Homo sapiens: one gene and its partner. The protein of the gene in region 2 purifies or fractionates together with the protein of the main gene of each other region. This does not show direct contact. Each region holds a gene or a part of one and is shown on either strand. Other genes may lie near its edges.

What was found. Proteins that work in one complex are often made in the same cells at the same time.
Region 1: the proteins of DLK1 (region 2) and LAPTM4B purify together in Homo sapiens (affinity purification with mass spectrometry; 4 studies listed by BioGRID and IntAct, with this or other methods). This does not show direct contact.

The regions. Positions count from the first base shown.
Region 1 is NC_000008.11:97,799,676-97,807,366, reverse strand, and holds part of LAPTM4B (lysosomal-associated transmembrane protein 4B), read right to left. Parts: intron 2,015-7,691; coding exon 1,903-2,014; intron 1-1,902. UniProt on the Homo sapiens protein: Required for optimal lysosomal function. Blocks EGF-stimulated EGFR intraluminal sorting and degradation.
Region 2 is NC_000014.9:100,729,311-100,737,264, reverse strand, and holds part of DLK1 (protein delta homolog 1 isoform 1 preproprotein), read right to left. Parts: intron 5,224-7,954; coding exon 5,082-5,223; intron 3,117-5,081; coding exon 2,369-3,116; 3' UTR 1-2,368. UniProt on the Homo sapiens protein: May have a role in neuroendocrine differentiation.

The DNA.
Region 1 (7,691 bases), on a different chromosome or scaffold from region 2:
ACTCCTGATCTCAAGTGATCCCCACCACCCTCCCAGGCTCCCAAAATGCTGGGATTACAGGTGTGAGCCACCGTGGCCAGTCTGTAATTACTTTCTATCGTTTAAATCATGTGGTTATAAAGTCACTCCTATCTTGCAGAGGGGGAAATTGAGGCACACAATGATAAGTCACTAGCTCAAGTTTAGCATCTTCAACACACGGCGGTGTCAGAACTCAAACTGACCTCTTCTGGCTTCGGAGCCTACACCTGTATTAGTCTGTTTTCATGCTGCTGATAAAGACATACCCGAGACTGGGAAGAAAAAGAGGTTTAACTGGACTTACAGTTCCACATGGCTGGGGAGGCCTCAGAATCATGGCAAAGGGTGAAAGGGACTTCTTACATGGCGGTGACAAGACAGAATGAAGAAAAAGCAAAAGTGACCTGTTGCCCAGGCTGAAGTGCACTGGCGCGATCTCGGCTCACTGCAACCTCCGCCACCTGGGGTTCAAGCAATTCTCCTGCCTCAGCCTCCCAAGTAGCTGGGATTACAGGCACTCACCACCACACTGGGCTAATTTTTCTATTTTTAGTAGAGATGAGGTATTGTCACCTTGGCCAGGCTGGTCTCGAACTCCTGGCCTCAGCTGATCTGCCAGCCTCGGCCTCAATCTCATGAGACTTACTCACTATCACAAGAATAGCAAGGGAAAGAGCAGCTCCCACAATTCAATTACCTCCCCCTGGGTCCCTCCCACAATACAGGGGAATTCTAGGAGATACAATTCGAGATTTGGGTGGGGACACAGCCAAACCATATCAATTCCAAACAACTGTGCTCAGCTAGTTACTGAAATTAAAGTCTATTTTTCTCCCCCAGGTCTGTTCCCACCTCCTGACTCCGGACTTTCTCAGCTCAGTTAAGATGCAGGTCATCTCCTAAAACTGGAAAGCAGAAGTCATCTTTGATTCCTCCGTCTCCTTCGCTGCCCAAAACAGCAAGTTGCCAAATCCTTCCCTGTTCTCTATCCCCAGTGCAGCCTAGGTGGTATCCCCAATACCACTCTCCCAGGCTCTGTGCTCACACACCCAGTACCCTACTCAGCAGCAAAAGGGATCTTAAATGCATATATCAGTTCATGCATTTAGTTAAAACCACTGAACAGCTTTTTCTTACTTGGAGAAACAAAGAGCCCTCACCATGTCTTTCGAATGCTTCCGATCTCTAAAACTGCATGTTGAGCCACTCTCTCCTCTCTTACTTTGCTCCAACACTTTTTAAGAAAAACTCACTTGAAGTTCTCCGAAGCCAATGAGAAATAAATCTGTACTATCTTCTGCTGGAGATTATGCACAGCACTACTCCTCTCCTTTGGCATGGACTCGGCATAATGATTATAAAATGATGAGGCTGCAGTGATCTTCAAGCTGGGAGCCTAGCTTCCTCCCTGCTTACCCCACATCCACATCCCTGTACATATTTCCATTCACTGGGAAAAGGCCCTAAATTCCCCCAAATAATCTGCAACATCATTTCTAGAATGGAAAAGGATCACTCCTAGAATAAAAATAAATACTGAAACATAATAGAAGACACAAGGAGATAAGCACAAGCCTTTTCACCTTCCTTCCTGGCATTTATACCCCTTCCTCTCAAAAAAGGCCAAAAGGCCCAGGGTAGAAAGTCTATGATAATGCAATCATTTTTAAGTGGGTAAGTTAACATAAGATGAAAATAGATCTTATTTAGACTCTTGCACCTAGAAGACAGAATGTTAGACGCACACAAATATTCGTTGATTTGCAATGACAAGTTATATATCAGCTCAAATGAACTCACGAGTCTATATTTGTAATTTAATAGGAAGTGCTGGCAGTCAGATTCCCTGCCCTTGAAAATACCCAAATATCTACTACTTACTGGCATCATCCATGAACTCAAAGTCACCTCCCAGTTCAGAACTTGAAAAGTTATACTGATCCGGATCAGCCAGGGCACTCAATAAAATCAACAGTACCACAGCATTGATGATCTGCAACAAGAAAAAAAAAAAAAAAAAAGAATTTAAGTAACCCCAGGATGCAATCCTTATAATAGAAAATTACACTGACCACATGGAGTCAGGCTGGCCACAGGCAACTTCTTCAGTGGCTTGACTCTCAACACTAAGCCCCACCCATGGAGGGAGCAGATAAACATTCCCAAGGCAGAAATGCTGCCAGCCCATTCAGTTGCAGCCAAGTGCACAAGGCTTGGAGTGAAGACAACAGCAGGATTTTACCTCATTCCCCCTGGCCCAGGCACCATAGAGCAGTGAACAACACACACAAACACAGGCATCAGCCCTGGCGCCAGTGGTTGAAAAAGCACAAAAACTTTCCAGTGAGTCAGCTACACTCTAGAGCTAAAGGTAAGCAACCCAAGTTGTCTCAGTTAATCAAACATTTTACAGGTTCAAACTAGTGGAGCTTTGAGAGCTTTGAAGCCATCTAGGAAGCAGTTTCAGAGAATGAATGCAAAGCTACATAGTGGATCCAGGATCATCCTTCTGCAATAACCCTTTCCAGGCCAGGCCAGGCCAGGCCAGGCCAGTAGTCCTGTCTTCTGAGTACTGCCCTTGGCTACTTTAAACTCAGCTCCTCTAAATGACAATCACCTTCTTTAACATCTCCCACTTCTGCCCTCCTTATTTGTTCTCTAATTTAAAAAATGGCCTCGCTATTAATAATTAATGAAAAACATTCAGGCACTATGCTAAGTGCTTTATGTGGAATCTCTCTTAAGCCCTGCAATAACCTAACGAAGTGGGTACTAAATTATTCCCATGTTATACATAGCAAACTGAGGCTCAGAGGTTAAAAAACACTGCCCAGGAACAAACAACTACCAAGCTGTAGAGATGGGATTTGAATCCAGGAATTTAGGTTCCAAAACCTAACCTCTACAAGTCTCCTGTCCATATACGAAACTTGATCATCTGAGTTTACCATCTTTATCCTGCACACTCAACCAACTGCAAAATCCTGATCATTCTACCTCTTCATTTCTATTTCCTTTATTCTTCCTGTCACTGCTGGACAATACACACACATATTAACTTTGATGGGGCTGGGGTAGCAAGGATTGCAGAGTTTAAGTGAGGCACCAGCTAAGACTGGGTTGTTGTCTGCTGAGAGACAAGGTGTCTATATTGCCCAGGCTGGCCTCAAACTCCTGGGCTCAAGCAATCCTCCCACCTCTGCCTTCCAAGTAGCTGGGCCTACAGGTGCGCATCACTGGGCCAGGCCAAGACTGGCTTGTTACTTCTTTACTATTCTAAGTTCAGAAACTTATGGCACAGTTCTATGTTTTACTCTTCTCAAATGGAGTGAAGATACACAGAGAAAAGCCTCTTACTAACAACACTAACTAATGGCATATCCTACCACAAAAATCATATTTGGGTTGAACACAGTGGCTCATGTCTGTAATCCCAGCACTTTGGGAGGCTGAGGTGGGAAGATCAGTTGAGCCCAGGAGTTCAAGACAAGCCTGGGCAACACAGTGAGACCCCATCTCAACAAACAAGAAAATGAGCCAGGCACAGTGGTGCATGCCTGTAGTCCCAGCTACTCAGGAGGCTGAGGTGGGAGGATCGCCTGAGCCCAGGAGTTTGAGGCTACAGTGAGCTGATGCGCCACTGCACTCCAACCTGAGCAACATAGTAAGACCTTCCCTCAAAACCAAATAAACAAAAATCCACATACTTGGAAATACCTGTTTAAAGGAAGTGTAAATGTTTTACAGAACATCCATTCAAGAGTTTATTTTTGGCCCGGCACGGTGGCTCACACCTGTAATCCCACCACTTTGGGAAGCCAAGGTGGGTGGATTACTTGAGATTAGGAGTTCGAGACCAGCCTGGCCAACATGGTGAAACCCTATTTCTTAAAATGCAAATTAGTTGGGCATGGTGGTGGATGCCTGTAATCCCAGCTATTCAGGAGGCTGAGGCAGGAGAATCACTTCAACCAGGGAGGCAGAGGTTCCAGTGAGCTGAGATCGTGCCACTGCCCTCCAGCCTGGGTGAAAGAGTGAGACCCTGTCTCAGGGGAAGAAAAAAAAAAGTTCATTTTTAAATGACAATCCCAATTGGTTATTTCAGGATTATTGTAGGATTCGAAGTAACTTTTTTTCTTTTTTTTTTGAGACGGAGTCTCACTCTGTCACCCAGGCTGGAGTGTAGTGGCACGATCTCGGCTCACTACAACCTCCACCTGCCAGGTTCAAGCGATTCTCCTGCCTCAGCCTCTCGAGTAGCTGGGGTTACAAGTGCCTGCCACCACACCCGGCTAATTTTTGTATTTTTAGTAGAGATGGGGTTTCACCGTCTTGGTCAGGCTGGTCTTGAACTCCTGATCTCGTGATCCACCCGCCTCGGCCTCCCAAAGTGCTAGGATTATAGGCGTGAGGCACCGTGCCTGGCCGGAATAACTTTTTTTCTTCCTGTATTTTCCAAATTGTCAAATAAAAGCTGATTGCTTTTCGAAAAAAATTGTAATAATGAGAAGAGCCACTTCCCAGAGTATACATATACATATAACTAATTTAAACAGATACTACAAGCATGTGTTTAACCAAACACCTGAACTGTACAAAGAATATATAGTGAAAAGTTACCTTCTCCGTCAAAGGCATCTGAACCAAAGCGACTCCATTATGAACAGGGGCTTGGTAAAATGTGGCTAAGACCCACTGGGCTGCACTTCCAGGAGGTTAGGCCTTCTAAGTCACAGGATGAGATAGGAGGTCGGTGCAAGGTACAGGTCGCAAAGACCATGCCGATAAAACAGGTGATGGTAAAGACGCCGGCCAAAACCCATCAAAACCAAGATGGTGACAAAAGTGAGCTCTGGCTGTCCTTATTTCTCATTATGCACTAGTTATAATACATTAGCATGCATGCTAAAAGACACTCCCACCAGCGCCATGACAATTTACAAATGCCATGGCAACGTCAGGTAGTTACCCTATATGGCCTGAAATGGGGAGGAACTCTCATTTCCGGGAATTGCCCACCCCTTTCCTGGAAAACTCATGAATAATCCACCCCTTGTTTAGCATATAATGAATAAATAATTATAGTATTATCAGTCGAGCAGTCCAAGCTACTGCTCTGCCTATGGAGTAACCATTCTTTTGTTTCTTTACTTAATAAACTTACACTCACTTTACTCTATGGACTCAATCTGAATTATTTCTTGCACGAGGTCCAAGAACCCTCTCTTGGGGTCTGGATCCCCTTTCCAGTGACATCTCCACAGTAATTATTATAACAGTATCTTGTTTCTCTCCAAAGATCCAAGAAATTTCATAGCACATTTTAAACAGTGTGATTAACAAAACTATCTGAAGAAAACTTTCTGTTACAACTCCAAGGCTTAAAGGAGCCACAGGCCAGTCCCACAACTGGCATTAAGATTTATGGCAAAGATGTTATTTGATAAACTGTCAAGTTTTCTTGGCATTTCAATCCCTCTATACTTTTTTTTTTTTTTTTTTGAGATGGAGTTTCGCACTGTCGCCCAGGCTGGAGTGCAGTGGCGCAAGCTCGGCTCACCGCAACCTCCACCACCCAGGTTCAAGTGATTCTCCCGCCTCAGTAGGAGCCTGTAGCTGCGATTACAGACACCTGCCACCACACCTGGCTAATTTTTTGTATTTTTATTAGAGACAGCGTTTCACCATATTAGCCAGGCTGGTCTCAAGTGATCCGCCTGCCTCAGACTCCCAAAGTGCTGGGATTACAGGTGTGAGCCACTGCACCCAACTCTTCTATACTCTTATTTTTGAGAAAAGGTATGTGGAAAATTGTGGACTGAAATAGGATCAAACGAAATAAGAAGAATGTGCTTTGAAAAATTATGAAGAGCTGGGCATGGTGGCCTGTAATCCTAGCACTTTAGGAGGCCGAGGCAGATGGATCACCTGAGGTCAGGAGTTTGAGACCAGTTTGGCCAACGTGGTGAAACCCCATCTCTGCTAAAAATAGAAAAATTAGCTGGACATGTTAGTGTGTGCCTGTAATCCCAGCTGCTCCGGAGGCCAAGGCAGGAGAATCGCTTGAACCCAGTGGGGGGCGGAGATGGCAGTGAGCTGAGATGGCACCATTGCACTCCAGCCTGGGCAACAAGAGCGAAACTCCATCTCAAAAAAAAAAAAAAAAGTATGAAGAACCACACAAGGGCAATGTACTCCATTATTGTTATCATAACAGGGTAGGGTTTTAAAGCTGAAATGAAAAAACATAAATTTGGGATTCATGGGCAAAAAGCTTTAGAGGAGGGAGCAGAGGTAAGGAGCTGGTCAGAGAAGATGGAAAGGTGAGGAAGTCGTACAGTGTGAGTCTGGGGTCCCGTAGGGCTACTTATGGAGTCTTGTTTTGTTTTTTTTAATTAGAGATGGGGTGTGTCACTATGTTGCCCAGACTGGTCTTGAACTCTCAGGCTCAAGTGATCCTCCTGCCCCGGCCTCCCGAAGTCCTGGGATTAAATGCGCGAGCCACCACCTGACTTTGTATTTTATTCTAAGTGTAACAAGAAGTCAACGGGGCTGGGCACAGTGGCTCATGCCTGTAATCCTAGCACTTTGGGAGGCCAAGGCGGGCAGATCACCATAAGTCAGGAGTTTAAGATGAGCCTGACCAACATGAAGAAACCCCGTCTCCACTAAAAATACAAAATTAGCCGGGCATGGTGGTGCATGCCTGTAATCCCAGCTACTCCGGAAGCTGAGGCAGGAGAATTGCTTGAACCCGGGAGGCGGAGGTTACCGTGAGCCGAGATTGCATCGTTGCACTCTAGCCTGGGCAACAAAAGCGAAAACTCCATCTCCAAAAAAAAAAAAAAAAAAAAAAAAAAAGAGGTCAAGGGGTAATATTACAGAAGGGAAGAATGTCATCTGGCCAGAGTTCAAATGAGTGAATATACATAAAATACCTAGACCGGTGACTGGCATACAATAGCCACTCAAATTAGTTATCTTACCTCTTCACATCTTAACAAGAACCATGTTAAAAGCTCTTGGTTACTAGTTTTCTAGATCTTCTAAAGCCAGTGTTAAGACACCTGCTTTACGCCTGTGCTTTCCCCGCACTCTCAGTCCCTAGGGACCTGTCAACTCTTAATCCGCTTATTATTCCCCCGTGGAGTCTACTGATCATATATAGCTACTAATTGCCTACAACACATATTTGCTAAGTGCTTAGGAAGAACTCCCTAGGACTCAGAACATGAAGTTAAATACATCATGTACCCAAAAAACAAAAAGCATAAAGCAATGAATGTGACAAGAGCTCCGAGAAAGAATCATGGAAGTTAAGGAGAGTTACAGTCAGGGGTTGCAGGGACCTGCAACAGAGATGGGAGCATTTGAACAGGAACTCAAAAGATGAAGATTTGGAGCCTGAGAGGTGTGGAAAAGAACAATTCCAAGTATGAGCAATGCCACTGAGACAAGGACATCTCCTCAAGACAGCAAGTTCAATGTGGCTGGAACGCCAGGGTCAGGGGGTATAAAAGGAAATGTTAGAGGATAGAACCAAAAATGTAGGATGGGGCCAGGTGGTGAAGAGGCCTCGAAACTAGGACAGGAATTCTAATAGTTAATGAAAATGCCATAAAGGTTTTGAGGAAGGATATGACATGATCAGAGCTATGTTGTTAGAAAGA
Region 2 (7,954 bases):
AACTCAAAATGAGATGAGATGGTGACTTATGAATGACTTCGTGGGGAAGGAAGAGGGACTTGGGGCGGTTGTCAGAGATTGGGGTGGAGGACCCAGGGGTTTGGGGTGAGGGAAGGGAGGAGAAGGGTGGGGGTGATAGGAAGGGAGGGCTGGTGGAGACAGGAGGGGAAGGGTGGGGAGAACGGGAGGGGAAGGGTGAGGGTGATAGGAAGGGAGGGCTGGGGAGGACAGGAGGGGAAGGGTGGGGGATCAGAGGGGAAGGATGACGGGGATCGGAAGGGAAGGGTGGTGGGATCGGAGGGGAAGGGTGGGGAGAATGGGAAGGGAAAGGTGGGGGTGATAGGAAAGGAGGGGTGGGCTAACAGGAGGGGAAGGATTGGGGGACGGGAGGGGTAGTGGGGACGGGAGCTGGAGAAGGGGAAGGGGCTTGCCAGTGATGATGGTGGTCGGTGGGGTGACAGGGTTTTTGGGGTGAGGCTGGGAGGGGCTGGGGACGCGTGCTGTGGGACTCAGGGCTGACGGTAGGGAGGGGCCTGGTGGGGACAGAGGCGGGTAGGAGGGGCTCTGCAGAGTGCAGATGATGCGGAGGAGGCGGTGAGGGTGGGGCGGGGCTTGGAATCAGGATGACAAAGGACCGGGAGTGAGGAGACCAATGGCTTGGTGGGGAGAGTGGGGTGTTGGGAGTTTGGGCAGATGCTGGTCGGGCTTTGAGTCAGGATGAGGGGGCTTGGGTAGTGGCTGGAGGACGATGAGGTGATGAGGTCGATATTGTGTCATGACGATGGCGCAGGTGACCAATGGATGGGTGACTGTGAGTTGTGTGTGGGTGACTGATGTGACTGACTGTAGATGACGAAGGTGATGATGACTTAGAAATAAACACCTGGAGCAAGGTAAACACGGCAGGCAATGCTCAATAAAGCTAAGAGTATAGATTCTTATCCAAATAATCTAAGAAGCAAAATATTCCTATCTGGTACCCAAGGGCTGTTTAGCTGTCCAACCCCAAAAGCTGAAAAGCTAAACAGAGCTCTGTCCCATTTCTTTCTATTTTTGCAAAAAAGATAGATGCTCTTTGTTAAAAAAAAAAAAAAAGTCAAATTCAAAATTCAGAAGCTGGCTAGGTCTTTTGAGATCTGAGGATTATTAACTCAGCAACACAAATGTAAACCCATGGCTGTGTGGGCCAGGTCTTGGACCACATTTGCCACAAAACTAGTAAGCGCCCCACAAGTGACAATTTCCACTAATCCCTGTGAAAACCTTGGTGAGGGCTGTGTTGCTGCTCAGATTCTGCCAGGGGCACTTGCGGCTCAAAGTACATTCAAGTCTCAAGGGATGTCTCTATAGGGTAGAGGCAGGTATAGTGTTGGGGTTCTGGGTGGGCAAAGAGGGGTGGGGGAGGGCTGGCTGCCTAAGTGGCAACTCCAGATGGCACATTATGACTCAAAGGGGCTATTTTTTCCCAAAAGGGAAGTGGGCCAGGAGGCTCCCCACTTTGAGAAACACAGTTAGGATAAATTTCAACATCAAGCGTTCATCCAGGATAGGCCAAAACCTTTCGGATCCCAGGATGAGAATTCGTCTTCATCAGATCCCAATTGTTGGGGTCAGGAAGTGTTTTGGTTCATACCCCCTCGTTCCTAATTCAGAGTTTTAGAGCCAGAGAGGACCATGGTGGTCGGTGTTCAAACCCCTCCCTCGAGAGGGGCGAGAAAGTGGGCCCAGGATTGGGATAGGGACTCGCCAAGGATCACACAGCGAGTTAGTGGCAGGGCTGGCACAGAGGCCCGGCCCCCCAGCAGCCAACCTGGGGCTCTCTCTGACTGACACACAGCCGCTGCACTCCGCTAAATCTCAAATCAATCGGAAAGATCTAAAGGTAGCGATGTTGAGCTGGATGTGAGTGCGAGTCGGATGTGGTGTGTGAGAATTAACGAACGAAAGCAATCGTAGCTCTTTGCACAGTGGGTGGTCATGTACAGCACTCGTAACGGTTTCACGAGGACCATGTGGCCGAGACCCCCAGGGTAGGGGCGTCGGCACTGAGCCCTGGTTCTGTTGCCTTGTTTTTTTTTGGTCTTTTTTGAAATTTCATTTGAGTTTAGATTTTAGAATAACATACTTATTTCTCTTACTCATTTAAAGATGAAATTCTTATTATTATTCTGTATCATGCATTAAGAGAGAGAAAGAGGATTGTTTTTGCATTGCGTTTGTCACACAGCAGCACAAAGACAATATATGTAAGCGTAGCGTTCACCAGATTTGACACAAGAGATAGCGAACACCACAAAGATTAGGACAGACCGCGTATAGTAAGCTCTGCGGAACTCCAAGAATCTAGAGGGGGCTGTGGGAACGCTGCTTAGATCTCCTCGTCGCCGGCCTCCTTGCTGAAGGTGGTCATGTCGATCTTCTCGGGGAAGATGATGTTGACGGCCAGGTCCTCCCCGCTGTTGTACTGAAGCAGCAGGTTCTTCTTCTTCCGCAGCATGTGGTTGTAGCGCAGGTTGGACACCCAGGTCTCGCACTTGTTGAGGAAGACGATACCCACAGTGCCCAGCACCACCAGGCTGGTGAGCACGCCCAGGATGGTGAAGCAGATGGCCTGGCCCTCGGTGAGGAGAGGGGTTTTCTTGTTGAGCTCTTTCATGGACACCTTCAGGATGCGGTGCTCCGGCTGCTGCACCGGCAGCTCGTGCACCCCAGGGGTCAGGCGGTAGGCCAGCCCATAGCCGCTGGGCAGACGGGTGACCTGCTGGGGGCTCAGCGCGCGCTTCTTGACACAGGTGAGACCTGTGAACTCGGGCTTGCACAGACACTCGTAGCTCACCTGGGTGTGCTGCAGGCAGGTGCCCCCGTTCTGGCACGGGCTGCTGGCGCAGTTGGTCACCGGGCGGCTGCAGGTCTTGTCGATGAAGCCGGCTGGGCACCGGCAGCGGAAGTCGCCCCCAATGTCAGTGCAGACGCCGTCGTTCTCGCATGGGTTGGGGGTGCAGCTGTTGGCCACGATCTCGCAGAAATTGCCTGAGAAGCCAGGGGGGCACAGGCAGGAGGCATGGGAGGCCCGGCCCTCATCATCCACGCAGGTGCCTCCGTGCTGGCAGGGGGAGCTGCAACACAACAGGGACATAGTAAACGGCCTCAGGGGCTAGGCTACAACAGCGCTGCAGGGCACGGGGCTCAGGGCAGAAGGTCCCTGGCCTGACTAAGGGGCAGGTGCTTAAAACACATCAGGTGAATGAGGGAGCGAGGGAGGGAACGCCAGCCAGGGAGGCACAGAGAGGTGCCCGGGGCCGTGACCCCTGTCTGCGAGAAGCTCACCAGTAGCTCTGGGGGTGGGTGGGTGGGTGCCCACCTCACCCCCATCTCGATGCTAACCTGGGACACACCCGACCTCCCATGCCAGGATGCCCACGTCCTCTCCCACCTCTTACTGCACCTCTCCAACCAGAGGTTAGTCTCCAACCGGTTAGTCACTAGCCAACTGGGGAAACTGAGGCTAGGAGAGGAAAAGTCAGTGACAGCCCAGGACTGGAGCAAGCCCCCTTCCCTTAGCTCCATCCCTGGACTGCTGGGGCAGAAGAACCAAGCAAGGGGCGCCCCTCACTCTATCCCGGGACCCGCTGTCGTCCTTCATGCCTATGTCCACTGTTGCCGCCAACCCTCATTATTATTATTATTATTATTAGCGGTGTGGATCCACAGGCTATTGTGCAGGAAGCGCTTGGGGACTCTCAAAGAGAAAGCAATACGAGGTCTGTCTACGGTGGCACAAGCCAGCGTCTGTACCAGGCTGTTTAATAGTGGTCCATTCACCCAAGTGCAGCTTGCAAACCAAAGCTGTTTGCTCAAAGTGGAGTACAAGGAGCATTTAATGTAAGTGCTTTTAAACGAGCGAGCCCTTTGTCATCCGATAAATGGCAAAACTCCGGGGAAGAAGGGGCAGTAAACACAAGAAATCAGCACTGCTGCTTCAGGGTGTGGGCTGCATGGGAGCTGGGCTCTGAAGGAATTTCAAGGGCCTTAGGCTCTATTTTGACACACTGGTTTAAGTCCATTCGCGAGAAAAGCAAAATATTTTAAAGGTCTCGCTCTGTTTTTCTCCTTCCTGCTAATAAGCAGAAATGGAGTTCAGTCTTCACCAGCCCCCACTCTGACCCCGTCTGAAGACTGATCTTTGGAAGCCCCGTTAATGTCTGTTTACAGCTCTTACAGACTACTGGGGTCTCTGTGCCACCCTGCGATGTCCGGTCAAGATAAGCTTATTTGCATGTTAGCTTCTGTTTCTTCAGAGGAAAGGGACACCCCTGCCCCCCAACTACAGGCCCAGGACTGGGTTCAAGTTTGGATTCTTACATTCGGACCCTGCCTCTGTCAAGATCTCCCTTGGCTTCAGGCTAAGCCCCATCCAGCGGGGAGGGATGGCTCAGGGCCGCCAAAGAGATAATGGGTGGGCAGAGGCTGAGCTGCTGGGAAGCATTGTTCAGGGAGGTCCAAGTGAAGACAGTGGCCACTCTGTCTGTTATGTCCGCTGCCCAGGAGTCCCAAAGCCCCCTTCCCCACTGAGGATAGCCGACAGCTGGCCCACCTCCTCTCGTGCTGGCAGAAGCCCAATCTCTTCACCTCTCAGCCTGGCAACTCCCTCCACAGACATCCCAGAAAATCCAATTGCAGAGCCCACCAGTTCCCCAAAACCACCCCCTGAGATACAGCAAGTGGGTTTCACAAACAGCCTCAGCCCCGCGGAGCTCCAATCTTTTACTACGTTGCCTTTAGAAAATTACGCAGCTCCGAGTGTCAGTTCATCATTCCGATCGACTGTCACTCACACGCATCGGGACTTGAGAACATCAGGGGAATATGAAATCGCCTTCAGGATCATTTGAAAAAATTATGGCAATGACACATTCCCCCGTGAATACTCCCATCCAGGGCGGTCCCCTACGGGGCTGCCAGGATGAGCGCTTACTTCATCTTTTGTCAGACGACAGGTCCAGCAGGGTTAGGCTGAAAGGGTCTTTGGTGGCCGCATGAAAAGCAGCATTCATTAGATCACACACAGGAAGGATATTTACCCGTTGATCACACAGGGCCCGTCCTTTTTCTGGCAGTCCTTTCCCGAGTACCCGGGGGCACAGGAGCATTCATAGAGGCCATCGTCCAGGCTCACGCAGGTCCTGTTGTTGGCACAGGGGGCCGAGGAGCAGGCCCGAACATCTGCGGGGTGACGGGGAAGACGAGAACTTAGCTTCCTCTCCATACACGAGCGTGATGCGGGCCCCAGTGGGCTTTAAAATGGCTCTATGGCCACCGAGTGGGGTCTGGAGTAAGAGGGTTTAGGGAGCCCCCTCAAAAAAACCCATGAAGTGAGTAAGCTGAGGCTCAGGAAGCTGAAGGGGTTTCCTTGCCTAAGGTCACAGATCAGAAAGTCGTGGCCACTGATATTCAGGCCAGGATAGCTGTTCCCTTTGCCTGGCACCAGGTCACCCCATATCCAGCGACATGTCCGTGACGTTCACTGTGGACATCATGCCCCTCCCTGCAACAGCGTGCCTAGCTGAGATTCCCTAAGGCCTGTCTCCACCAGACAAGACTGCATCTCCACCCTCTCCTGTTAGGGGAGGGGTCCTGGCCAGCCGGGGGATGAATACAGCCCAACCCTCAGAAAAACCACCAGCTCTTCATACTTTTCCATCAAAGAGGGGCAGTGGGGGGGATGGAGATGTAACGACCCCCCTCCGTCAGGAATCAAGAAACCTGTTAACCCCAGCACTACCACGTGTCCCTGTGGTCTCTCTTTCTGCACTCAGGCTCTGAACTCAAGGGGTCCCTGGTAAAAAGGCTTCATCTTTTAAAGCCAGGGAAATTAGAACTATTGAGCGCTCTCCTATCAGCACAGGTTTCCATGAGCACTGGTATATTCCCACCATCTTTTAACACCTTCCATCACGCACACTTCATTATTCAGGTTCAGCAAGCCAGGGATGAGCTGAACACAAGGGCCTGAGTCAGGGGCTCTCTGATGATGGAGACCCCAGCTCCCCAGTGGGGCCAGGAAGGGACCCCTGTCCTGCCCTGTATCCGGCCTGCTGCCATGTGGCAGCAGAGTTCAGCTCCTACCCATTCTGGGCCTCAGTTTCCCTACTTATAAAAAGAGGGTCTTTCCCTGGCCAATCTCTGAGGGACTCTTCAGCTTTGATTTTCTATAATTTGAGCTGCTGTACCTGCCAAACAGAAAGCCAGGGCCAGTGAGAGACACAGCAAGCTAAGGCAGGCTGGAGGGGGTGGGGGGAGGGGAAATCCCCCGTGCTGAGGCCACACATGTGCGTATTTTTTCCCCCTCTCAGAGAGACCCACACCCTCGTGGAGGGGAGACTGCAATCAATCAAGGAGGAAGAGCCTGAACGTTGTGTTGATGGACTACCCCGTGGTGTTCCATGGAAGCCCGGCTTGGTGCAAGGACACATAAAGAGGATTTATCTTTACGGGACGGCACCGGCAAGGCATTAGCACGTGGCGCCTCCGCGTCAGGCTCCTTATTCTCTGCACCCGACTCTCCTGTCACTCAGAATCTTAAATTTAAGCTAAAAAGCTGGCGACCACCCCCAGCTTGTCCCTGCAGCTCTCCCTGCTATGCCAATCCTGGATCAGCCCTCCTGAGCCTCCAACCCCAAGACAGGGGTGAATTAAGCTGCTCTGAGGAAAAGGCTGCTTGGGGGTCTCTGCTGGGACAGCAGCTGTGGCCACGACAGCCTCAAAGATGGGCAAAAAGGGAGAGGGAGGGCTATGTCTTCTCTGGGACCCCAGACTCTCTGGCCATCCCCAAGCTGGCTGCCTTTGTCAACTTGGTGGGGAGGGGACATACCAAGGGCCCATGAGAAGGGAGGCATTTGTCCGGAAAATTTCAGCAAGGGTGTACGGCATTTAGATACCAAAAAGATGGGCTCCAAGCTAAAAGCCTAACCCTGATCCCAAATGGTGGCTTTGCTGGAATCCCCCAGATCCTCAAACGACTCAGAGCTGCTGCCGCTGCTTCTGTGAGGGGCAGCAGAGATGCTGGCCAGAGCATGAGTCAGCTGCGGGTAAACCTTGCACCATATTGCAGGGGCTGGAATTAAGGACCAGAGACAATTTGGGGTGGGAGGGAGCTCAGCTTCAGAACCACGGCTGCCCTGGCTGTACAGGGCAGGGGCCACAACAAAATGCTCTTAGGTGTTCCTTAAGGAAGGATGTTAGATGCAATCGAAGATAAAAATTAACTCTCTTTCTGGGGCTGGGGGAAAGGGTTGTAGCTGGCTTTTTGCCCAACTTCTTTCATATTCCTTAGCAGACACTTGTGCTTCTCTGATCCTCAGTTTCCCTATCTGTACCGTCTTTACTAATGTTGGGGACTGAGGGACAGGGGCCCTGAGGGCAGGCTGCTACACAGCTGGGAGTTTTTTTGTGGACTTCAGTTTGCTCAAACGTTAGGGCTGGTTTTGCCAAATGAAAATGGGCTTAGACGAACATTTCGCAGCCTGAAAATGCAGTGACAGCCAACTCTCAATTGCTTGGGGTAATGGAGGCAAAGATTGCATAAATTAATGAAATCAACAGATAACACCCATCTTCACTTTAACCCTTTCTCAGCTTTTCCCAACTGCAGCCTCCCCCTACACCTGACCCACTCAGTCCAGGCCCCCCAGCCCTGTCCTCCTGGCCCTGACTCAGCACCTGCCCCTCAACCACTGAGCAGTGCTGGCCACCCCCCACCCCGTTTGTTTGTTTGCAGCCTCTTTACAGTCTTGCGTGTGCTTTTCTAGGGAGTCTTAGCTCTGAGATCCCCAGAGCCCTGTCCATCACTGGGCTTCCATGACCTGGACAGGCAGCCTGGGGTCTGTGGTCCCACCGGCCCAGCTGTATGTGTATTTTGTGACTCTTTATTCAACAGGCAGCTCCCTGGCCCCCA